4 linked regions of the Homo sapiens genome follow. The protein of the gene in region 1 purifies or fractionates together with the protein of each later gene. This does not show direct contact. Each region holds a gene or a part of one and is shown on either strand. Other genes may lie near its edges. The genes, in order: MSRB3, SNX21, TIGAR and C1QL1.

What was found.
Region 2: the proteins of MSRB3 (region 1) and SNX21 purify together in Homo sapiens (affinity purification with mass spectrometry; one large-scale study listed by BioGRID and IntAct). This does not show direct contact.
Region 3: the proteins of MSRB3 (region 1) and TIGAR fractionate together in Homo sapiens (co-fractionation; one large-scale study listed by BioGRID). This does not show direct contact.
Region 4: the proteins of MSRB3 (region 1) and C1QL1 purify together in Homo sapiens (affinity purification with mass spectrometry; 2 studies listed by BioGRID and IntAct, with this or other methods). This does not show direct contact.

The regions. Positions count from the first base shown.
Region 1 is NC_000012.12:65,280,105-65,286,085, reverse strand, and holds part of MSRB3 (methionine-R-sulfoxide reductase B3 isoform 2 precursor), read right to left. Parts: intron 1-5,981. UniProt on the Homo sapiens protein: Catalyzes the reduction of free and protein-bound methionine sulfoxide to methionine. Isoform 2 is essential for hearing.
Region 2 is NC_000020.11:45,836,156-45,842,125, reverse strand, and holds part of SNX21 (sorting nexin-21), read right to left. Parts: exon of another isoform or gene 4,791-5,970; intron 3,859-4,790; coding exon of another isoform or gene 3,735-3,858; exon of another isoform or gene 3,594-3,734; intron 2,647-3,593; exon of another isoform or gene 1,821-2,646; coding exon of another isoform or gene 1,668-1,820; intron 1,488-1,667; coding exon 813-1,487; 3' UTR 289-812; coding exon of another isoform or gene 170-288; 3' UTR 94-169; coding exon of another isoform or gene 83-93; 3' UTR 1-82. Other genes in the region: ACOT8 (acyl-coenzyme A thioesterase 8), read left to right, coding at 170-288. UniProt on the Homo sapiens protein: Binds to membranes enriched in phosphatidylinositol 3-phosphate (PtdIns(P3)) and phosphatidylinositol 4,5-bisphosphate. May be involved in several stages of intracellular trafficking.
Region 3 is NC_000012.12:4,326,835-4,332,815, reverse strand, and holds part of TIGAR (fructose-2,6-bisphosphatase TIGAR), read right to left. Parts: intron 1,537-5,981; coding exon 1,499-1,536; intron 1-1,498.
Region 4 is NC_000017.11:44,958,404-44,963,940, reverse strand, and holds the end of C1QL1 (C1q-related factor precursor), read left to right. Parts: intron 1-3,573; coding exon 3,574-3,753; 3' UTR 3,754-4,248; downstream 4,249-5,537. UniProt on the Homo sapiens protein: May regulate the number of excitatory synapses that are formed on hippocampus neurons. Has no effect on inhibitory synapses.

The sequences.
Region 1 (5,981 bases):
AGTTTTATAGTAGCTTTTGCTGTTACGTATTTTCTCAGTCAACAGATACTAAAAACATAGTTACTACTACATGAAAGGGTCTCCATTATTTTTAAAGAGTTGGAAATTACTCAATACTATATACTGTATGTAAATGTGTCACTTTAGACAAATGTTATGAATAATATACTATTTTTATAAACCTAGAATCAGGATATACCATTCGCCTGGGAACTAGACCCTAAGAAAACACTTCCTGGTTTTTTGGGGATTTTTGTTTGTTTTCTGAGATAGGGTCTCACTCTATTGCCCAGTCTGGAGTGCAGTGGCACGATCTTGGCTCACTGCAACCTCTGCTTCCTGGGCTCAAGCAATCCTCTCACCTCAGCCTCCTGAGTAGCCAGGACTACAAGCATGCAACACAATGCCCAGCTAATTTTTGTAGTTTTTGTAGAGATGGGTCTCACTACGCCGCCCAGGCTGGACTCAAGTGATCCACCCGCCTCAGCCTCCCAAAGTGCTGGGATTACGGGTATGAGCCACCAAACCCAGCCGAAAACACCTCCTATACCAGCATTCTTTCTCTGTTTCACCTATATTCATCTCCACATTTTATAAACCTCTTTAATCGTGTAAATAAAGCCCTCTCATAAAATACATTCCCTCAACTTTCCTTTAGGAAACCAAGTATCAATAAATAGCCCTGAGGTTTCCACATCAGCACAGCTGGGTAACCCAATCACAGCAATGCCCAGTAACAATGCTGCTCCAGGCTACCACGGCCAAGTGTCAGAGATCAGGGTATAGTGACCGGAGTGGCCAACTCAAGTAAGTGTACAGGAACCTTGCAGTCAACACTTGAAGAGATAAGGCAAGCAAGGAATTCTGTAAAAATGAGGGAAGTATGTGATTTATCATTATTTTTCATTTTACATTAGGAAGTTATCAATAATTATTTTATGGATAAGAACCTGACCATGGCCACAAAAAGTAACCATAAAGGACCCCAAAAAAGTATAAAGAGTACTCCATCTGGTGGAAATCATATCTTCTTCACATTCTGTCCAGTCTTGGGGAAGAAGAGTGAGGAACGAGGAGGAGTGTGAGACACAATGTGTGTTCAAATTGGTGATGATGAAGACATTTAGGAGTCAGTCCTTTATCTGAAGAAAGATAAGAAGCCACTGAGGGAGGGTTAAGCAGGAAAGAGGGGAAATGATTTTGTAGTTTAGAAAGGTCATTCTGGATGCAGTATCCTTTGTCCAACACTTCCCATGTATTATCTCTCAAGTTAGTAAATGTGATGTCCCCTCAACAAGGAAAGCTCGTGAACAGAATGCCATATACCGACTCGGCATCTTTTAAAGTCAGATCAAATTCTCTCTTCTCTATGATGCTTTTCCTGTACCCTTCCTTTTACTCCAGCTAACAAATGCTCTCTTTTTCTCTTTATTTTTAACTCTCCTTACTCATACATGTTTTATTTCCAGCCTTGATCTCTCCCTCCAAGTTCCAGTTTCACACTTCGGATTCTACTACACATCTCCACAGGAATATCCTACCAGCACCTCAAAAGCAAGAGATCTAGAACAAAACTTATTTTTACCTCCACCCACAAACCTGCTGAGATCACATTCTCTCCATCACCCAGGCTTAACATCTCATGTCACCTTTTATTCATCCCTTTCTTTCCCAATATCCAATTGCTTATTTCTGTCCAATGTACTTTAGCAACACTTCTACTGCGGTGCCGCTATTCTCGTTAGGTCTTCATTCCTTAAGAGAAACTCTCAAAACACTTCTTTATTGGTCCTATGACTTATTTCCCAATTTAATTAATTATCTAAACTATTGGATTATATAACCTATAATTCACCTCTGATTATGACATTTCAAGGATCAAAAATGTCAGTCTCATAACTTACTAACCCAATCCAAGTTCCCTAACAGCATTAAAAGCCTTCCACTTAATTTTCCATATTTGTACTTTATTGTCCCACTATTCCACTTTATACATGCTCATTTTCTTCTACACCTGTCCTCTCTATCTGATCTGGTAAATTCTGGGTGCTCAACAAAAGCTGATTTCCTTCTGTATGAGTTGCTGTCCTCTCCTTCCCCCTGCCATCTCAGTTACAGGAAAGCATCCTATCATTTGTATATTCCCTCTTCATACAGGAAATTAGTGTTCATGGAAAAGCATGTAAAATCTAGGAAACAGACAAGTATTAAGAAAGAAAAGCAGAGTGATTGAACTCCAATTTCAAAAGAAGACAGCAGCAAGCAGGATACCATAAAAGCATCAGAGTATCTGAAAAAGTCAGAATTGTTATACCTGGAACAATGGATGCTCAGAGCCTATCAGAATTCTTCTAGCTGAGTGCAGTGGCTCATGCCTGTAATCCTAGCACTTTGGGAAGCCAAGGCTGGCAGATCACTTGAGGTCAGGAGTTTAAGACCAGCCTGGCCAACATGGTGAAACCCCATCTCTACAAAAAAATACTACAATTAGCTGGGCATGGTGGCAGGTGCCTGTAGGCCCAGCTACTCAGAAGGCTGGAGTGGGAGAATCACCTGATTCTAGGGAGTTCGAGGCTGCAGTGAGCCATGAGTGTGCCACTGCACTCCAGTCTGGGTGACAGAGTGAGATCCTATCTCAAAAAAAAAAAAAAATTCTAGGTGATTCACTGACATATGGAATTTATAGTTTAGTGAAGTTGAATATATATGGACTTAACTACAACACAAGACAATATAGTAAAACTTGTACTCCAACCATGGTCCAAAACACCTTAGAAGCACAAGGAAATTACAAATTCTGTGGTATGAAGAAAATGTCACAAACTACCATCTGACAGAGGCCTTAAAGACTTCAACCTGTTGTGATAGAGAAGAGGTCCAGGCAGTAGGAACAGCCTAAAGGAAAGGTAGAGACAGAAAATGTTAGATATGTGTGAGAAATAGGAAAACAACTGATAAATTCTCAGTCCCTAAGCTATTACTGTTTCAAATATCTCTACCACTTATAGTTTTAATGAACTTATCCTAAAGAGCCACTGGAGGTCAGCATTTTATTCAGTGAATTCCTGAAAATATGCAGATGATTATTTGCAGAGTGAATTAGTTGTTATCAGAGAAAATGTTCACAATTCATTTTAAGGACTATAACCTCATAACATAAAATGGAAAAATGCAAAATCAAACCATCTACATGGCTGTACTACGTACATCAGATACTCTAGAATTAGAAGAGACTTTAGGGAAAATCTAGGTCAACCATGTGACCTAAACTGTGTCTATCAGGTTCTACCTCCCAGGAATTTAGGATCAAGGCTCAATAATATAGTCCCTCCTTATGAAGGGACACATAAATACTCAGGAGCTGCTGAGCAGCCACATCTAACCATGAAGAGAAAAAAAAAAAAAAAAACACCAGCAAAGAAAAAACAGTGAAGCAAACTAGAGACAGGGAATGTTCTAGATTTTTCCAGTCCCTTATCTCAGGCCCTAAATGAGGTCTGCCTGCATTTGACTTCCAATGGTTTTCCAACAAATTCCTTTCTTCCTTTTTGCTAAAACTAGTTCATTTCTGTTACTGCAATAGAAGCTTAAATGAGGCAATAACCAAAATCTTTCATAAAGTCAATTGTTCGATGCGTTTGTTTGATCTTTTCTATACTTTCCTTTTTTGTACTTCCCTTAAAGCCATAAACATGACTTCAGCATACTATACAGACAAATATATGAACATGGATGAGGGACTGTGCTGAGCAATTTTTTTTTTTTTTTGAGACAGAGTTTTGCTCTTGTCGCCCAGGCTGGAGTGCAGTGGCATGATCTTGGCTCACTGCAACATCCGCTTCCCTGGTTCAAGTTATTCTCCTGCCTCAGCCTCCTGAGTAGTTGGGATTACAGGTGCCCACCACCATGCCCGGCTAATTTTTGTATTTTTCATAGAGACAGGGTTTCACCGTGTTGGCCAGGCTGGTCTCAAACTCCTGACCTCAGGTGATCTGCCTGCCTCGGCCTCCTAAAGTGCTGGGATTACAGGCGTGAGCCACCACACCCAGCCTGTGCTGAGCATTTTAAAAGGAAAACCCATCATGGGCAGGAAAGAGAAAATACAGAATATTCAAAGTAAATCCTTGAGATACAGCAAGAAGAAATGCTAACTAACAACTGGCAAATTAAATAGCTGATTACCCTTCCATCCAAATCCAGTTTAATTCTGCTAAATCAGATAGGTAGATCCAATTCAATCTTCTCTGAGGTAAGATCAAAAGGTGATAACCCATTATAGGCTATTTCATCTGGAATGCTCACAGATAACTAGCCTTCCCAACCACAGAAATGTTTGGATGCTCTCTGGCGGTATCCCTAACCCAGACCTAAATAACAAAACTGAATATCAAACTGTCTTAAGGCCTGGGCTTAACTATCCCCAAAAACCAGTTAGGCATTTACCCTATGACATAATCAGCACTTTCTGCTATTAGATGAGGAAGAAAAAGTGATAGAAGCTTAACACGGAATCTGTCCAGGTATGTATGTATCTTTGTGCATGTTCCAGGTATTAACACAATCCTGAGACAGATCCGGACTCTCCAACACTGGACCACACCCATCACATCTGGCTAAGGTAGGCCAGTTTGACATGTATAGCAAGTCACAGGCTGACAATCAGAAGTTTGAACCACATGTAGTAGGTGGCTCTGAAGAGTTACATAAACAAAAACAACATTATAGGATCTTGGAGTTAGAAGAGACATGGAAACTGTCCAACTTAATAATTTTACCGAGAAGCTAAACATGGGAATCAAATTCATCAACCAAATCCATAACTATGATAAATTAATTATACAGGTGCAGATAAATTAGAGGGATTGTGACCAGATTATGACAGAACCAAAAATGCAGTGGTGTGATCACGGCTTACCACAGCCTCGATCTCCCTGGCCCAAGCAATCCTCCCACTTTGGCTTCCCAAGTAGCTGAGACCACAGGAGTGAGCCACTATGCCCAGCTAATTTTTTTTTAATTTTTGTAGAGACAGGGTATCCCTATGTTGACCAGGCCGGTCTCGAACTCCTGGGTTCAAGCAATCCTCCCACACTGGCCTCCCAAAGTGTTGCATTACAGGCATGAGCCACCACACGTGGCCTTAAAATCTATTTTTAATTATTAAATGGCATATGTATTAGAAAAACTGATGAACCTTACTGTTGGGATAGTCTTTGGATATTCTTTTGAGTTGAGCAAAATAGCAAGGATTTCTGACTTAATGGATTAACATCTTAGTTAAAATATTAGAACAAGCACTTTTAAAAACAAAAAGCAGTGTGTTGATTCAAAATCTAAATTACATTGTATGCTGCAACCTTGCCATACAAGCAGTTTAAGCACTGTGACAAAATTCTAGATAAGTAGCAAAGAGCTACTTATCTTAATATAAAAATTTCCAGATATTCATATAGGGCCCTAATAAAAGTCATCAGAAATTAGACTGATATATCAGCTGGGACCGGAATTAAAAGAATATATGTTTAAATGGTCCAAATATAAACTTGATGTTCAAAATTACTGGCAAGGGGCCAGTACAGTGGATTCTGGTCTTCGAAGGCCGTTTCACCACAAGTATTAGGTAAGTCAACACATCACTGAGGAAAAAGAAAGCATACATATGTTTCCTGGCAATAAAATCCACTCTTCACTATCCAGCACAGTATTTTTTAGAAATCCATTGAAAAATGTGAAATTAGAACCTGTTGTATTTCCCAAGAAGTGCTATTAAAGTTACTTCCAAAATATGAATCTATAAAAAACAGGGTTTTTTTGAAAAACAATACTATGCAGAAAGAAACATGAAACTGATATCACTGCTCAAGTTACTATTTACAAATTGCAAATTGAATAAAGTTAAATATTGTAAATATCTGCCATTAATCTGAACTGACAATTTTATAAGTTATATGAACCCTGAAGTTTTTTTATAGACAAAATTG
Region 2 (5,970 bases), on another chromosome or scaffold:
TGTGCGCCTGTAATCCCAGCTGCTCAGGAGGCTGAGGCGGGAGGATCCCTTGAACCCAGGCGCTTGAGACCAGCCTGGCAACTTAGTGAGACTCTGTTTCAGGAAAAAAAAAAAAAGTGTATTTGGCTGTTCTGAAGCAGGCCATCATCACCCTTCACCTCACCCACAGGTGGCTCTCGGGGGCTGGTCCATGGGCGGCTGTGGCGTCAGGATGGAGTCCTAGCTGTGACCTGTGCCCAGGAGGGCGTGATCCGAGTGAAGCCCCAGGTCTCAGAGAGCAAGCTGTAGCCAGAGGTACCAGCTTCGCCTGGGGCTTCAAGAACCTCCCATCTATCCCCATTCCTGAGACAGGAGTTACAGTCCCTTTTGGCCCTCACATCCAATAAAGAGACTGATACCACTGGAGTGGCTGGCTTTTAATTCCCCTGGGCCAGACCTGCAGCCTTGCCTTCATCCCTTAACTCCAGGACTCCAGGGGCAGAGTCCCTGGCCTTCAGCCAAGAGGCCTTGCCAGCTTGGGGGCCCACCAACAAGGGAACATTGCCCCAACCTGTGCCACAGCCCCCCGGCTGTTTATAGGCTGGAGAGGCTGTGTCAGACTTCCCTGTACTACACAAGGGCAACCCCAGCCAAAGCTCACCCTGAGCCTAGCTCAACAGAAGTTTCCTTGATCTGCTTCACATTCTCTTTTGGAACTTCTAGGGGCTCCCAGCACCCTCTGCAGCCTCCCAGCTATTCTGTTCTCATCAGGTCCTTCCCCTGCCTTCTGGGGCAACCCCTCTCCTCACAGTGGCCTTAAATCTAGGCAAGGGTTAGTCCAGCACCTCCTTGATGAGCAATTCTTTGAGACTGGGGGGTGGTGTGGGGGTAAGGCCTGCCTCCTGCAGGGCTTGGAGCCGAGCCTCTGATTGACGTTTGTCCAGGCCCAGGCGCCAGGAGAGCCGGACATGGGCCTCCAGAAAGGGTGCCAGCAAAGGGTGGAGGCTCTTGTCCCCAAGCAGCTGCAGGGCCTTCTCACAGCATGCCCGGGCCTCTCCAGGGTCTTCCAGCTCCTGGTGGCACACGGCCAGCCCAGCCAGGGTCAGCAGGGGGCGGTCTGGGCCAGAGGGGGTGCCCAGCTGGGCTTGCAGCTGCCAGGCATTGGCCCAGAGTGCCAGAGCCTCACGATAGAGGCCAGTACAGGTGAGGCTCTGTGCCCGCCGCAGCTCCGGCAGCACGAAGAAGTCCTGCAGGTCCGGGGCATGGCGCAGCTCAGGCACTGCCTGCAGGTGACCCAAAAACTGCTCAAAGGCCCGGCTACGGCGGGCAATGGTCTCTGCAGTAAAATTCCGGCGCAGCCGCTTACGGGGGAAGGAGATGGCAGCCATTGGGCCCCGGAATTGCCGCTGCAGGTTTCGGTGCAGCCGCTCAAAGTCCGAGTAACGGCGAGAGATCTGGGCTGGCTGGCAATCTGGCGGTCCTGGGCCGATCACGGCGAGGGTGTAGAGCTGCAGGGAGGGTGGGTGTCAGGGCAAATGCAAGTTGTCCACGGGCCCGTTCCCTCCCCATCCTTCCCCATCCCCCACACTCCCAGCTGTACCTCCCCACCTCTTCCTTTCACCCCTGGGACAGCACCCAGGAGGGCGGGAGCTGCTGCGCAGTGGCGGGGAAGCCCAGTCCCATCTTACCTGAGGTTTGTCTGAAATGACCCAGGCCCAAGGCAGCAAGAAGAGAGAAAGACAGAGATGAGCTTCAGTGCCCGGGGCTGCTGCCCCTTTTTTTGTACTCCCTTCCCATAGAGCATTAGTTCTTCTGACAGCCCCCTCTGGAAAACCAGACATAAGCTGAAACCCCAGCCAATCTCTTGGGGCTCCTTTAGGACCAGCTTGGAGCTTGTTCCACTTTGGACACCTGGCCTCCACATCCCTGGTCAGGCTTTTCCAAACTAGACCCAGAGGACAGGTCTGTAGATAGCCACAACTGCCATAACTGTGAAAAGTATACTGGCCTAGGACTCAAGTTCTAACCCCAGGTCAGCTACTCCTTCTCTGTGTGACCCAGGCAAGGGAGTCCCCCTCTGGGTCCACTTCTGTTTCTAGTGAAGGAAGTGCTCGGTCAAGTCAGTGTTTGTCCAAAAATGAGACATGTACAAGTATTGGTACCTGAGGTTTTTAGGTGGTGTGCACTAGAGTAAATATCACTGTATCAGGAGGTTGGTCCCCTTTTAATTATTATTTTTTGAGACAGGGTCTCACTGTTGGCCAGGTTGGAGTACACTGGTACAATCATAGCTTACTGCAGCTTCAACCTCCTGGGCTGAAGCATTCCTCCTGCCTCAGCCTCCCAAGTAGCTAGGACTATAGGCATGCACCACCACACTCAGCTATTTAAAAAAATTTTTTTTTTTTTTTTTGTATGGAGATGAGGGGGGGTCTCACTATGTTGCTAGGGCTGGCCTTGAACTCCTGGCCTTGAACAATCTTCCTAGCTAGGCTTCCCAAAGTGCTAAGATTACAGGCATGAGCACCACACCCAGCCTAATTGTTTTTTAATCTTTCTGACTACAAATTGAGAAGCTCTCAGTTTGGTTTTGTTGGGGTTTTTTTATTTTTTTATTTTTTTTGAGACGGAGTCTCGCTCTGTTGCCCAGGCTGGAGTGCTGGAGTACAGTGGCACGATCTCGGCTCACTGCAAGCTCCGCCTCCTGGGTTCACTCCATTCTCCTGCCTCAGCCTCCCGAGTAGCTGGGACTACAGGCGCCTGCCACTACGCCCGGCTAATTTTTTGTATTTTTTAGTAGAGACGGGGTTTCACTGTGTTAGCCAGGATGGTCTCGATCTCCTGACCTTGTGATCCGCCCGCCTTTGCCTCCCAGAGTGCTGGGATTATAGGTGTGAGCCACCGCGCCTGGCCAGCTCTCAGTTTGGTTTTAAAAAAAGGACTTCTTGGGCAGGTTGCAGTGGCTCACACACACACCTGTAATCTCAGCACTTTGGGAGGCTGAGGCAGGTGGATCACCTGAGGTTGAGAGTTCGAGACCAGGCTGACCAACATGGAGAAACCCTGTCTCTACTAAAAATGCAAAATTAGCCAGGCGTGGTGGCACATGCCTGTAATCCCAGCTACTTGGGAGGCTGAGGCAGGAGAATTGCTTGAACCTGGGAGGTGGAGGTTGTGGTGAGCCGAGATTGCTCATGGCACTCGAGCCTGGGCACCAAGAGTGAAACTCTCTCTCAAAAAAAAAAAAAAAAAGTACTTCTCTAACACTTCTCATCTCCATTTTTAGAAAAGAGTCAGAAAGTGGATCTCAGGTCAGGGCCTCCTTCAGGCAACAACATCTAGGCAAGATTTAATGACGTTTCATTTTCACTACTTACTTATTTACTTTATTTATTTATTTAGTCTCGCCCTGTCGCCCAGGCTGGCATGCAGTGGCACAATCTCCGCTCACTGCAACCTCTGCCTCCTGGGTTCAAGCAATTCTCCTGCCTCAATCTCCCGAGTAGCTGGGATTACAGGCGCCTACCACCACATCCGGCTAATTTTTGTATTTTTAGTAGTGTCGGGGTTTCACCGTGTTGGCCAGGCTGGTCTTGAACTCCTGACCTCAGGTGATCTGCCCACCTCAGCCTCCCAAAGTGCGGGGATTACAGGTGTGAGCCACCGTGCCTCACCTTTTATTTTTATGGCTAGCTTCTCTCGGTGGCAAGTGAGACTTTCCACGTACGGTAGTGCTATGAAGTTGTCTTTTAAAATTACTTAAAGGATGGGCACAGTGGCTCATACCTGTAATCCCAGTACTTTGGGAGGCTGAGGCAGGAGAACAGCTTAAGGCCAGGAGTTCGAGACCAGCCTGGGCAACATGGCAAGACCCTGTCTCTAAAAAAAAGAAAAAGAAAAAGAAAAAGAATTAGTTGGGCACTTGTGGTCCCAGCTACTCAGGAGGCTGAGGCAGAGAATCATGTGAGCCCACGAGTTCAAGGCTGCAGTGAGCTATGATCACGCCACTGCACTCCAGCCTAGGCGACAGAGCAAGACTCCGTCTCGATAAACTTATTTAAGAAAAAAAATAGGTTCGGCTGGGCGTAGTGGCTCACACCTGTAATCCCAACACTTTGGGAGGCTGAGGCGGCAGATCACTTGAGGTCAGGAGTTCAAGACCAGCCTGGCCAACAGTGAAACCCCATCTCTACTGAAAATGCAAAAGTTAGCCAGGCATGGTGGTGGGCACCTGTAATCCTAGCTACTCAGGAGGCTGAGGCGGGAGGATTGCTTGAACCTAGGAGGTGGAGGTTGCAGTGAGCTGAGATTGCACCACTGCACTCCAGCCTGGGCAACAGAGCAAGACTCTGTCTCAAAAAAGAAAAAAAAAAAGATAAAGAAAAAAAAATAGGTTCATTTAAAGAAAAATGTTAAGAAGAAAAGGACACAAGTGGCATTTTTAGATAGGACAAGAATCAGGGAGGTATTGGAATGACTGAGGTTTGGAAAACACTGAACAAGATGATCACGAAGTTCCCCGCCTCCCAGGTCTGAGAACCTGAATATGGATTAACCTATAATGCCAAGCCAACAGGTTTAAAAGGAGAGTTAACCAGTGTTAGATGTTAAAGGCACCCTAACACCAAATCCAGATCTTTCTCTCACATTTGTTCTGTGGAACTGACAATACTCTAGCCACTCCTGGTCAGTTAGGTTTGCTTACTCTGTCCTCTTGAAGATTCACAGTGTATATCACTATTAGGGATTAAATACTTTAACAATAAAGAAACTTATTGTATTCTCATTTAACTCTGCATTCTCAAAACATATTGCCTGCAAAACCTTTATTTAGAAACAGCTATTAACATTCCAGGGAACTAGTTTTCTGCAGGACACACTTTAGGACACCAGTTTTCTTCAGGACACACTGGTCTATATAATAAGCCTTTATGTTCATCTAGTTTACATTTTGTATCCATTATCTCATTGACCTTGTAACATGCAGCCAGATGGGTGATAATGACAGTAGTTCCATTACCCAAGCATTTACCCTGTGCCTCCTGTTGTACCAAGCACTCTTTACATCTGTGATTTCATTTAATCATCACAACAGCACTGCAAGGAAGGTCCTTATCTCTGACAGCTGAGGAAGCAGGCTCAAAGAGGGGGAAAAGGGCTCAAAGACTTGCCGTAAGTCACACAGCTGGAAAACAGCCCAGCTGGGATTTAAACTCAGGTTGATCTGATTCCAAAGCCTGTGCTCTTCACCCCCACAAGTTGAGTGGGGAATTAGGGTCCCCATTGTACACAGGAGGTGCCTTGCTTCTCCAGACACAGGCCGGGGCATACTTGGCCATCCTGCTCTATCTTGTCATCCCTTCCCATCCAGGTACCCACAGTCACCCCCATTCCTCTCAGCCTCTGAACTATTCCTTGGTGTCCCCTTCCAGTGTATGAACCCAGAGTTCTGAGACCTTTGCCACTTCAGACTTCATCATTGGCCACACGTGGTGGTGCACAGCTGTAGTCCTAGCTACTTGGGAGGCTGAGGTGGGAGGATAGCTTGAGCCCAGTTGGAGGTTGTAGTGAGTTATGACTGCACCACTGCACTCCAGCCTGAGTGACAGAACGAGACCCTGTCTCAAAATTTTTTTTTTTTTTTTTTTTTTTTTTTGAGACGGAGTCTCGCTCTGTTGCCCAGGCCGGACTGCAGTGGCTCGATCTCGGCTCACTGCAAACTCTGCCTCCTGGGTTCACGCCATTCTCCTGCCTCAGCCTCCCAAGTAACTGGGACTACAGGCGCCTGCCACCATGCCCGGCTATTTTTTTGTATTTTTAGTAGAGACGGGGTTTCACCGTGTTATCCAGGATGGTCTCGTGACCTCGTGATCCGCCCGCCTCGGCTTCCCAAAGTGCTGGGATTACAGGCGTGAGCCACCACGCCCGGCCTCAAAAATTTTTTTAAAAGACTCAATAATCGGAGTCGGTCCCTGCTGAAATTGGAGTAGT
Region 3 (5,981 bases), about 61 Mb from region 1:
TGATTATTTTATATATAATTCCAGTCCCAACAATGACGGATTATACATTTTTCTGAAGCATACAATGGAAGAATTATAAAAACTGACCATAATTAACACATTTCAAAGAAGTATCATCAAATAAACCATACTGACAGAACACAAAAGCATTTATAATGGAAGTCACTCAATGGGAATTGAAAATACTTGGTGCTGAATGCTTACCACATTACCACGTGTCAAAACTACGGGCATGCAAACAAAAACAGTACTTAGGAATATATAAGCCTTGAGGCCGCGTGCGGCGGCTCAGGCCTGTAATTCCAGCACTTTGGGATGCTAAGGCAGGCATATCAACTGAGGTCAGGAGTTCAAGACCAGCCTGGCCAACATGGCAAAACACCACCTCTACCAAAAATACAAAAATTAGCTGGGCATGGGGGCACGTGCCTGTAATCCCAGCTACTCAGGAGGCTGAGACATGAGAAATCGCTTGAACCTGGGAGGCGGAGGTTGCAGTGAGCCGAGTTCGCACCACTGCACTCCAGGTTGGGCGGCACAGTGAGACCCTGACTCAAAAAAAAAAAAAAAAAAAAAAGAAATACATGAGCCTTGAATGCTTATACACAAAAGGCTGTAACTTAAAGAACTAAAGCATCCAACTGACAAGGTCAGGAAAAGAACACAAAAACTTTCTTGACGTTCCATTGTCAATGTCTTAGGAAAAAGAGAAATGAGCAATACCAAAGGCCAGGTGGTAAGAGGCTTCAGTCCAGAGGATAACCTGGGTGGGGCATATTTCGTCTGAAAACAAAGGTTCCTTTGAGAATCAGACCAGTTATTGTCCATAAAAGGGAGTCAGGCACACGGAATATGAAAATCAGTTTTTGTAAACCCCGGAAGTCCCTAACCAAAAAAATAAAACTAAATGCTTTTATAATCACAGCACAGAAATAGCATGTCTAGCCAAAAGTTCAAGATATTCTTAAAAAGCCAGACTAGCTGGATCACAGGGCAAATAAAAGATCTGAGTCCAAATTAACAGAAAAAGGGAGAAAGAATCTCTTCAGAATAAAGTAACGACCACATGTGAAAATAGTTCTTTTTTTAAACCTTTATTACTACTAAAATTAAAATAACCATCTTAGCAGAAAAAAATACCATTAACACCAGTCAGTAAACTTCATGTTTCCAAATATAAAATAATTTCAAATCCAGACATTTATATTTTAAGACACCCAGACCCAATATAATTAATCAGCTGACAGAGCCACTTTGAAGCCATACATAAAGAATAACTTGGAGACCTGTACTTCACACCCAGTTCACTTGAGAGATTTATTCCTCCTGGTTACTAACAGCCCTGATCATATTTCTGTGGTTATGATGCTTTGATTCTGTAATCCCAATTCACAATGGAGTGCTGCCCCCAGTCTACCCCACCCCACCAAATCTGCTTAACTCACACATCTTATTAACACAAGGGTGAGAGCTAAAATAACAATCGGATTATACCAACCTTGGATTATTTTCTCCTTGTTAAATCTTGTTTCTCCACTAAAATAGAAAGAGAAGGACAACCTTATTAGCCAAATTATACTGTTTTTGAGAGGAGGAAAAAAATGAGCAATCAAGTGTGGTGATACTCTAAAAATATCATGTGAAACTTGTAACACACTTCATAATCCAACCTGTAAAAACAATTTATTCTAAACTAATATTTGCAATTGTCTTCTTTAATGAAGAGCTAAGAATTTCAAACTACTCCAAACTAAAACGTGTAGATCAGGAACCAATCTTAAGTGAATTGCAGGTGGAAAATCCTACTAAAAAATATAATGCAAATAACATTTCAGCCAAATAATTTTGTTAAAAGAAATATATTGATCAAAACTACTCTTACTGGCAGCAGGAACAAAAACGTGAGAGTCAGTCTATTCATTGCTGGACTGAATGAGCAAGTGAAAGAGAATCTGAATGGAATGGGAGAGACGTGCACAAACCTTCAGAACCCCCTGCCTTCTCTTAGTTCCTAGGTCTTCAGCAGTTATTTTTTGTAGTACTGACAGCTATCTCGCAGACCAACTAACTGCACACTGAACTGAGGTTTGAGTACTACACTTTTAAAAACTAAAATACCAAAACAAATCAAAGCAATCTGAACCAACCGGAAGGGTAAAAGAACTGGAAACTTTGTCAGAAAATAACTGGGGTTACTGAGGCTGGAGGGGGAAAAGGGCGGGAAGTGCATGGGCAAGACTGGACAGACAGCAGGATAGGTTAACAATAATGCAACTTTCAAATACATGAAAAGTAGAATCAAAGAGAATTCAGCTGAAATTTCTTTGAGCACTAATTAAATGTTTGCTGACCCAACCTACCACTAGAATTGCTGGGCCATAAGGTATGCAAATACCAGCTTTATTAGGTAATGCCAGTGTCATAGCAGGTTACACCACCCTGTAGTGTGGTGTACCACCCTCAACAAGATTCAGTGATGGAAGGTTTCTTCAATTTGTACCAATCTGGTACCTGAACAATTCATCTCACTTTAATTTTAATTTGCATTTCCTTGATTTCGATGGAAAATGATCGCTCCATTGTTTTTAAGTGAAGCACTAGTTTATAATAATTAAAATGTCACATAGGACTGATTTACTCAGATCTAGAAAAAAAAATCTACCAGACCTGGAAGTCAGAATCACAAACTCAGGCCTCATCCTGGAATCTTGCCGCTTGTTTACAAAAACAGCTGTATGCCAACCTCTGCCAAGATACAGATTGCTGGATTTGGCCAATATGAATGTTCTTTAAGACCCAACACAAGACTGGTTCTTTTAGGTAGTCTCCCTCCCCAGTACCATTCCCCATCTACCTACTCTATTTAATACCCACACTCTATACTCCCATGGTCCCCTGGCACTACCAACATAAGTTTTCATCTGTGTGCTAATTGACTTTTTAGCTCTGTGTCTATCCTGGCTCCAGTTCCTTAAAGGCACAAGCAGGGATTGCATACCCTCAACATGCCCAGGGCCTGGAGAAAATGCTGGGAAATGACAGAACTTCAGTGAATGTGCTTTTACCTAGGGAGGGTCATCTGGAAATACCTATCAAAATGACAAATCTGTTTACCCTTTTATCCAATAACCCAATTACTGGGAATAACTGAATTCACTCATATTTAAAAGATTATTTGTGGCCAGACGTGGTGGCTCATGCCCGTAATTCCAGCACATTGGGAGTCCGAGGTGGGTAGATCACGATGTCAGGAGTTCAAGCCCAGCATGGCCAAGATGATGAAACCCCATCTCTACTAAAAATACAAAATTTAGCCATGCGTGGTGGCGGGCGTCTGTAATCCCAGCTACTCGGGAGACTGAGGCACAAGAATTGTTTAAACCCGGGAGGCAGAGGTTGCAGTGAGCTGCAATCACACCACTGCACTCCAGTATGGGTGAGAGAGCAAGACCCTGTCTCACAAAAAAAAAAAAAAAAAAAAAAAAAAGATCATTAGCTACAGTATTATTTCTAATAGCAACAGATTATAAACAACCCAAATGTCCATAACTCATTCCTTAACTATGGCCAGAATAACCATTATTTATATTAACAAATAAACAGTGACATATCTACCTAATGGAATCCTATGTAAATGTGTCCTTTAAAGAGAGAGATTATATGTAAAGATATGGAATGCTCACCAAGATATATGATTAAGTAGAAAAAGCAGGGTATAGAGTAATATAAAAAGAAAGCTACCCTTTTAGAAAGGAGGGAAATAAACATCTGGATCTGCACAAAGAAACAATGGAAGGATAAACATGAAACTAATAAATGTGGCCACCTATTGGTTGGGGGAAGAATAGGAAGACTACGGAGAATTGTTTTGATTTCTAAATATGTAGATGTATTAGCTTAAAAAATAAACGTATGATAAAGAAATAAAATTACACAGAACTGGCCAGGCACGGTGGCTCACGCCTGTAATCCCAGCACTTTGGGAGGCCGAGGTGGGCAGATCACGAGGTCAGGAGTTCGGGACCAGCCTGGCCAACAAGGTGAAACTCCGTCTCTGATAAAAATACAAAAATCAGCCAGGCATGGTGGTGAGTGCCTGTAGTCCCAGCTACTCGGGAGGCTGAGGCAGAAGAATCGCTTGAACCTGGGAGGTGGAGGTTGCAGTGAGCCAAGATCATGCCACTGCACTTCAGCCTGGGCAACAGAGCAAGACTCTGTCTCCAAAAAAAAAAAAAAATACATGGAACTATTTATACCTTGGTAAAAAACCAACAGCACTGATTTGCCATTATCATTGTTGTTAATATTAATAAAAGATTACCTAGGCCACATGCAGTGGCTCATGCCTGTAATCCCAGCACTTTGGGAGGCCAAGGAGGGCAGATCACCTGAGGTCAGGAGTCCGAGACCATCCTGGCCAACATGGTAGAATCCTGTGTCTACTAAAAATACAAAAATTAGCCAGGCGTGGTGGCAGGCACCTGTAATCCCAGCTATTCGGGAGGCTGAGGCAGGAGAATGACTTGAACCCAGGAGGTGGAGGTTGCAGTGAGCCAAGATCATGCCATTGCACTCCAGCCTGGGCGACAAAAGCAAGACCTCATCTCAAAAAAAAAGATTTCCTACACTCCAAAATTCATTCAGAATCTTATAAAATGGGCATGAAAGAGGATATTAGCCTCTACCATTCAGATGGATAAAGCAGAAGCATTCAGGGCAAACATGGGGAACCTGTCATTTTTAATCTAGAAAATAGTTACCATGTATTGGATTCACTTCCTGTCTCAGCCTCAAAATCTTGCTGAGACCAAGAATAAAATATCTGTTATTTCAATATAAGTAACATCCTCGGCTGGGCGCGGTGGCTCATGCCTGTAATCCCAGCACTTTGGGAGGCCGAAGCAGGCGGATCATGAGGTCAGGAGTTTGAGACCAGCCTGGCCAATATGGTGAAACCCCGTCTCTACCAAAAATACAAAAATTAGCTGGGCGTGGTGGTGTGTGCCTGTAGTCCCAGCGACTCGGGAGGCTGAGGCAGAAGAATCGCTTGAACCCAGGAGGCGGAGGCTGCAGTGAGCCGAGATTGCGCCCTCAAAAACAAAACAAAACAAGTAACATCCTCGCTAGACAGTGGCTTGTAGCCCTTAATTTAAACCTGGCCTAAAACTGCCTCCATGCCTAGGGAGCTGTCACCTAACTTAATATGCACACAAACTACAACATAATTTGAGAGTATATTCCTGTAATAAAAACCAAGTCTCAGCCAACCATGCATGGCAGCTGAGCTTTCAGCCAATTATGGGCTGCAAACTGCTCAGACATGTCCTAATAAGGCAAAGCAGAGCTGTATCCAATCAGGCTATCTCTATATGTCACATCCTTTCTTTCTTTTTTTTTTTTTTTTTCTGAGATGGGGTCTCACTCTGCAGCCCAGGCTGGAGTGCAGTGGTGTGATCTCGGCTCACTGCAATCTCCAACTCCAGGATTCAAGCGATTCTCCTGCTTCAGCCTCTCAAATAGCTGGGATTACAGGCAAGCGCCACCACGCTCAGCTAATTTTTGTATGTTTAGTAGAGACATGGTTTCACCATGTTGGCCAGGCTGGTCTCTAACTCCTGACCTAAGGTGATCCTCCTGCCTCGGCCTCCCAAAGTGCTGGGATTATAGGTGCGAGCTACTGCGCCTGGCCATGTCACTTCCTTTCTCTGTCTATAAATACTGCCTGCCTATGTCACTGGGTGAGCACTCTGAAGCTTTACTGGTTCAGGTGCTGCCTGATTTATGATTCATTTCTTTGCTCAAATAAACTAAGTCTAATTTGTCTAAAGTTTTTCTTTTTATAGGTTGCTAACACAATTTCCAGCCAAAGCCAAAGAAGCACCCTCATTTTGAAATGAGGGGTGAGAAGAAATTTAATAATTTGCCAACCAAGAAATCATGCAAGAGCCACCAAAAAAACTCAGAATTTACAAATCACAGAA
Region 4 (5,537 bases), on another chromosome or scaffold:
TTCAGGTGGGTTGGAGAGGACACAAAATTAATAAACTGGGCAGGGGGCTTTGTGAGGATGTGCCAGGGCCTGTGGTCAGGGTGCTGCTTATCCAGGGTAGGAGGCTGTGGGGAGGTGAGTATCACCAATGGGCCAGGGGTTTGACAACAGAATCTGAGTGTGGCGAGAGGTGCTGGCATATATAAATTGAAGGTGGTGGTATAAAGACCTAAGAAGGCTGTGCACAGTGGCTCACGCCTGTAATCCCAGCACTTTGGGAGGCTGAGGCGGGCGGATCACCAGAGGTCAGGAGTTCGAGACCAGCCTGTCTAACATGGTGAAACCCTGTCTCTACTAAAAATACAAAAAAACATAGCCGGGTGTGGTGGTGGGTGCCTGTAATTCCAGTTACTCGGGAGGCTGAGGTAGGAGAATCACTTGAACCTGGGAAGTGGAAGTTGCAGTGAGCCAAGATCGCACCACTGCACTCCATCCTGGGTGACAGAGCAAGACTCTGTCTCAAAAAAGAAAAAAGACCTAAGGAGATCAGCCTCTCCCCTGGTGGTGGCAGATGGCCCCCTGGCTATCCTTTCTGGCCCCTAATACCTTTCACAACACAGAGCACAGTGCCTGGCACAGTGGGAATGCAGTTAATGTATGTATGAAAATGCAAGTGTCCCCCATGGGCCAGGCTGGCTCCCCTATGGGAGCCACATCTGTACACCCAAGACCCCAGCATTGATCTGAGGGCAGGAACGTGTTTCCTGGATGCCCTCTCACCCAGTTCCCTTGGTCAGACCATTGCCTCAGTTTCCCCTCCTGGCAGCCCTTGAGGAGCTGATTATACAGCGCTCCCTCATAACAAGGCCCAAACCTGCTTTCCTGCTTCCTTGGCAACCTCATTTCCCCACACTTCCCCTTGGACCCCAGGAGGAGCTGCAGGCCTCAACTGTCTCCAGTCAGGCAGAGAATTGGGACCCCTGGGTTCCATTCTTGGATCCCCCACCATCTAAGGATGGAAGGGCATAAATTCTCTCTGCCTCCATGGATAATTAGGATAATTACGGCAACAATCATGGTGATGAATAAATAATAAACATAAGCATAACAGTTCTGATGCAGTCACATCACCAGGAGATTCCTGATGACAGATGACTCTGTTCCAATGGATTTGGCTATTAAGGAGCACACTGTTTTAATGAGTTAAGGCTAAATTAATCTGGGCAATAAAAATAATTGTTATTAGTAGTAATTTATTAGCAAAGATAATGAAATGCATGTGTAATAATAAATATTACCAGGATTAGGGCTCAGGGAACAATACAGAAGTTGGCTGTTTGCTTTCAGCTCTTCCCTAATAACTCAAAGCCCCATCAAGATCTAATGTTTTTTTTTCTTTATCATCAAAAGACTTTTACAGAGGTGGCAGTGGTGAGGCAAAGTCTTCTCATCCATTTTCTAGACAGAGAAACTGAGCTCCTTGGCAGACAGCATCTCCCCCTTCATTTATTCCCTCCCACCTTTAACTAGACCAGTTTTCCCAGCTAAGCACACAAAGAGTTTCTTCTCAGGTTGGGAAGAAGAGGTTGAGGGAAAAGAAGGGGCTGGAGAAGGGCTTTAAAGGGAGGCCCTCATGCAAATATGTCGGGTCCTCTTCATTGCAGCATCGCGGCTGAGTCAGCAGCTCTGGCACAGCTGACCTGCAGTGCTGCCTCCAGCCCAGGAGAGAGGATGGGCCCCTCCCCTAATTTGGCTTGGTTCTACCCAGACTTCAGCCCTGGGAGTTGGGATGGTAAGCTGCCTTCAGTGAAGGGACAGGATAGAGAGGGGCCGTGGAGAAACCTGGCTGAGAGAACTCCACTCAGTGCAGCCTCCCCACACCACAAGCCACAGTCCTGGAGAGGGCGCTTCTCTTCCATGTCTCTACCCAGGATACCCTGGAGAGGCCCCGATCCTCAAACTCAGGACTTATGTTTCCATACCTGTTAGCTGAATGTCTGTAGATCATTCGTTCACCACCACACAATCTCTCTCTCTCTCTCTCTCTCTCTTTTTTTTTTTTTTTTTTTGAGACGGAGTCTCGCTCTGTCGCCCAGGCCGGACTGCGGACTGCAGTGGCGCAATCTCGGCTCACTGCAAGCTCCGCTTCCCGGGTTCACGCCATTCTCCTGCCTCAGCCTCCCCAGTAGCTGGGACTACAGGCGCCCGCCACCGCGCCCGGCTAATTTTTTGTATTTTTAGTAGAGACGGGGTTTCACCTTGTTAGCCAGGATGGTCTCGATCTCCTGACCTCATGATCCACCCGCCTCGGCCTCCCAAAGTGCTGGGATTACAGGCGTGAGCCACCGCGCCTGGCCTTTTTTTTTTTTTGAGACTGAGTCTCACTATGTCGCCCAGGCTGGAGCGCAGTGGCATGATCTCGGCTCACTGCAGCCTCCATTTCCCAGGTTCAAGTGATTCTCCTGCCTCAGCCTCCCCAGGAGCTGGGATTACAGGCGTGCCACTATGCCTAGCTAATTTTTGTATTTTTAGTAGAGATGGGGGTCTCACCATATTGGCCAGGCTGTTCTCGAACTCCTGACCTCAAATGATCCACCTGCCTGGGCCTCCCAAAGTGCTGGGATCACAGGCATGAGCCACCGTATGCAGCCACCACACAATCTCTTATGATTATAGTCAGAGCCCCCAAAAGTGACGGCAGGCTCCAAGCCCAAATGCTGGTGCTCCCTTGACCCATTATCCTGCCTGTCCCTCCCCATCCCCCATCAAGGCAGGGACCAGCAAGGATGTCACATCAGACTGAGAATCCCAGAGGGAAGTAAGGCCTGGATTCCCTTCTTCCCACCCAGTTCCTTTCTACCACCCTGAGGTGAGACAGGAGGAGCTACAATCCTCTTTGGGTGGGTAGTGACAGGTACATAGCTACAGCTCCATGGAGGCTGGCACCCAGGCCCCTTCTAAACTCTGGGAGGGGAAAGCATTACCAGGCCTTCTGTCTCACTGCTGCAGCAGGAGAGACTCTGGAATGCACTTCAGACCAAAGACCTGGCCCTGGTTCCAGGGTGGTTGCTGACTGGCAGCCTGGCATTGGTCCAGCTGCCTGACCTGTGGGGCCAAGGTGTGCCCTTGTGTCCATCCACTGACATAAGATCCAGCGGGTGTGGCTGAAACGATGGCATCATTATGAAAGCAGAGAGGAAGGAATGATGAGAGTAGGGAAGGCCCTCCATTCCCTGGAGGTCCAGAGAATTCCTCTTTGCAAGGACAGGCTTCCAGGCTTCCTGGAGGTATTGAGGTTCTCAGCCAGCTGGAGGGAAAGCCCTATAAGAGTTAAGGAGGAAGACTCTGCCTTGACTCCCAATTCAGGCCCAGATCAGACCTGCCCTAGAAATCCAGGGATCCTCTCTGCCCCTTTCCTGAAACAAGTCCTGTATGATTGGAAGGGGGCGGGGGAGGGGGAGCGTGGCAGGGATGAGGCGAGGCTGGAGGCCAGGTTTCTGGGTCTGCTGATCCTCCCCCACGGGACTGCCTCACCTCCCTCCCTTCTCATCCTCTCTCTCCTCTCGCCCTCCCTCCCGTGTCCCCCACCCGCAGGTGCGGGCCAGTGCTATTGCCCAGGACGCGGACCAGAACTACGACTACGCCAGCAACAGCGTGATCCTGCACCTGGACGCCGGCGACGAGGTCTTCATCAAGCTGGATGGAGGCAAAGCACACGGCGGCAACAGCAACAAATACAGCACGTTCTCTGGCTTCATCATCTACTCCGACTGAGCTCCCCACGTCTCCCTCCACCCACGTCCCTCACCCGCCGGGGTCCCCTCCGGGCGGGGCAGACGATGACTCGCCCCTCGCCCACCCGCTCGCTGCCCGGCCCTCCCCGGCTATGACGCCCCCGGCCCGTGCTCAACACCGCCTGGGCCACAGCTAGGCCCTCCCACCGGCTCGCTGCAGAGCCGGGCCCAGCGCGCCCTGTCCCCGTGCCAGGGAACCGGGGTTGACCGCCCCCGCCCAGCCCGCGCTATATATTTGTACAATAGGACTGTTTACTGCCCACCTCCGCCTGCCAGCCCACCCCAGCCTGGGGAGAGGTCGCGGCGGCGGGTTTGCTTCCTGCGCTCTGAGATGAGCTGCCCTCCGCTCCCTCCGGGGTGGCGCGCCCGGGGGAGGGGGGAGTTGGGGGCTGGATAGCTTCCCAGCACCCTCAGAGCCCCCGCCCGGCTGTGCCCCGTCTGACCAAAGTTATAATAAAAACATTTTCACCCCGCAGGGGTTTCAGTCTGTGCCCTGGGGAGGGCTGCGGGAGGCGACGGTGGACCGTGCCCTCCTCCAGATTAGGAAGGGGTCTGGTGGAAGTTTCTAGGGGAAACCAGGTGCCAGAGCCAGAGCTACTCCAAGAAGAAGTTGCCAAAGGGCCTAAAGCCCACCACAACCCAAGTGGGCCTGGGCAGCTGGGATGGGAAGCAGCCCAGTTACTTCATCATCTTCCATGGTGGACACATTCCTTTTTTTTTTTTTTTTTTTTTTAGACGGAGTCTCGCTCTGTTGCCAGGCTGGAGTGCAATGGCAAGATCTCGGCTCCCTGCAACCTCCGCCTCCCGGGTTCAAGCGATTCTCCTGCCTCAGCCTCCCGAGTAGCTGGGAATACAGGCGCACACCACCACGCCCAGCTAATTTTTGTATTTTTAGTAGAGATGGGGTTTCACCATGTTGGCCAGGCTGGTCTCAATCTCCTGACCTCATGATCCGCCTGCCTCAGCCTCCCAAAGTGCTGGGATTACAGGCGGGAGCCTCGCTGAAAGTGGCATCAGCATTCCACAGGCACAGGTGATCTTTAAACAGGGAGACCTAGGTCCGGCTCTGGGCCACCGTGTATGATCCTGGGCAAGTCACTTCTTTCAACGCAATTTAGGATTAGTGACAGCCATAGAAAGGAACATCCTTTGGACTAAAGGCTGGTTAACCTAGGTCTACGCACTTGACCTCTGTGCCTCGGTTTCCTCATCAATAAACGTAGGAGACCTACCTCACTTGATTGAGGATTCGTGAGGTTTATTGTTATGTGCTCAGTAAACATAGCTTTTATTATTTATCTATAACTTGCAAAATGCTTCCAAGTATGTCATCTCAAGTTTTCCAAACAGCCCTGGAAGGTTGGACCTAGATTTTATTCTTGCAGGGAGGTTAAATATCTTGCTTACATAGTTTCTAAGTTCTGTGATTGCACTTGAAAATCCAAGACATGGCCACGCACGGTGGCTCACACTTGTAATCCCAGCACTTTGGGAGGCCGAGGTGGGAGGATCACCCAAGGTCAGGAGTTTGAGACCAGCCTAGCCAACATGGTGAAACCCTGTCTCTACTAAAAATACAAAAATTAGTTAGGCGTGGTGGCAGGCACCTGTAATCCCAGCTACTTGGGAGGCTGAGGCAGGAGAATAACTGGAATCCTGGAGGTGGAGGCTGCAGTGAGCTGAGATCACGCCATTGCACTCCAGCCTAGGCAACAGAGCAAGACTCCATCTCAAAAAAAGGAAAAAAGAAAGAAAGAAAATCCA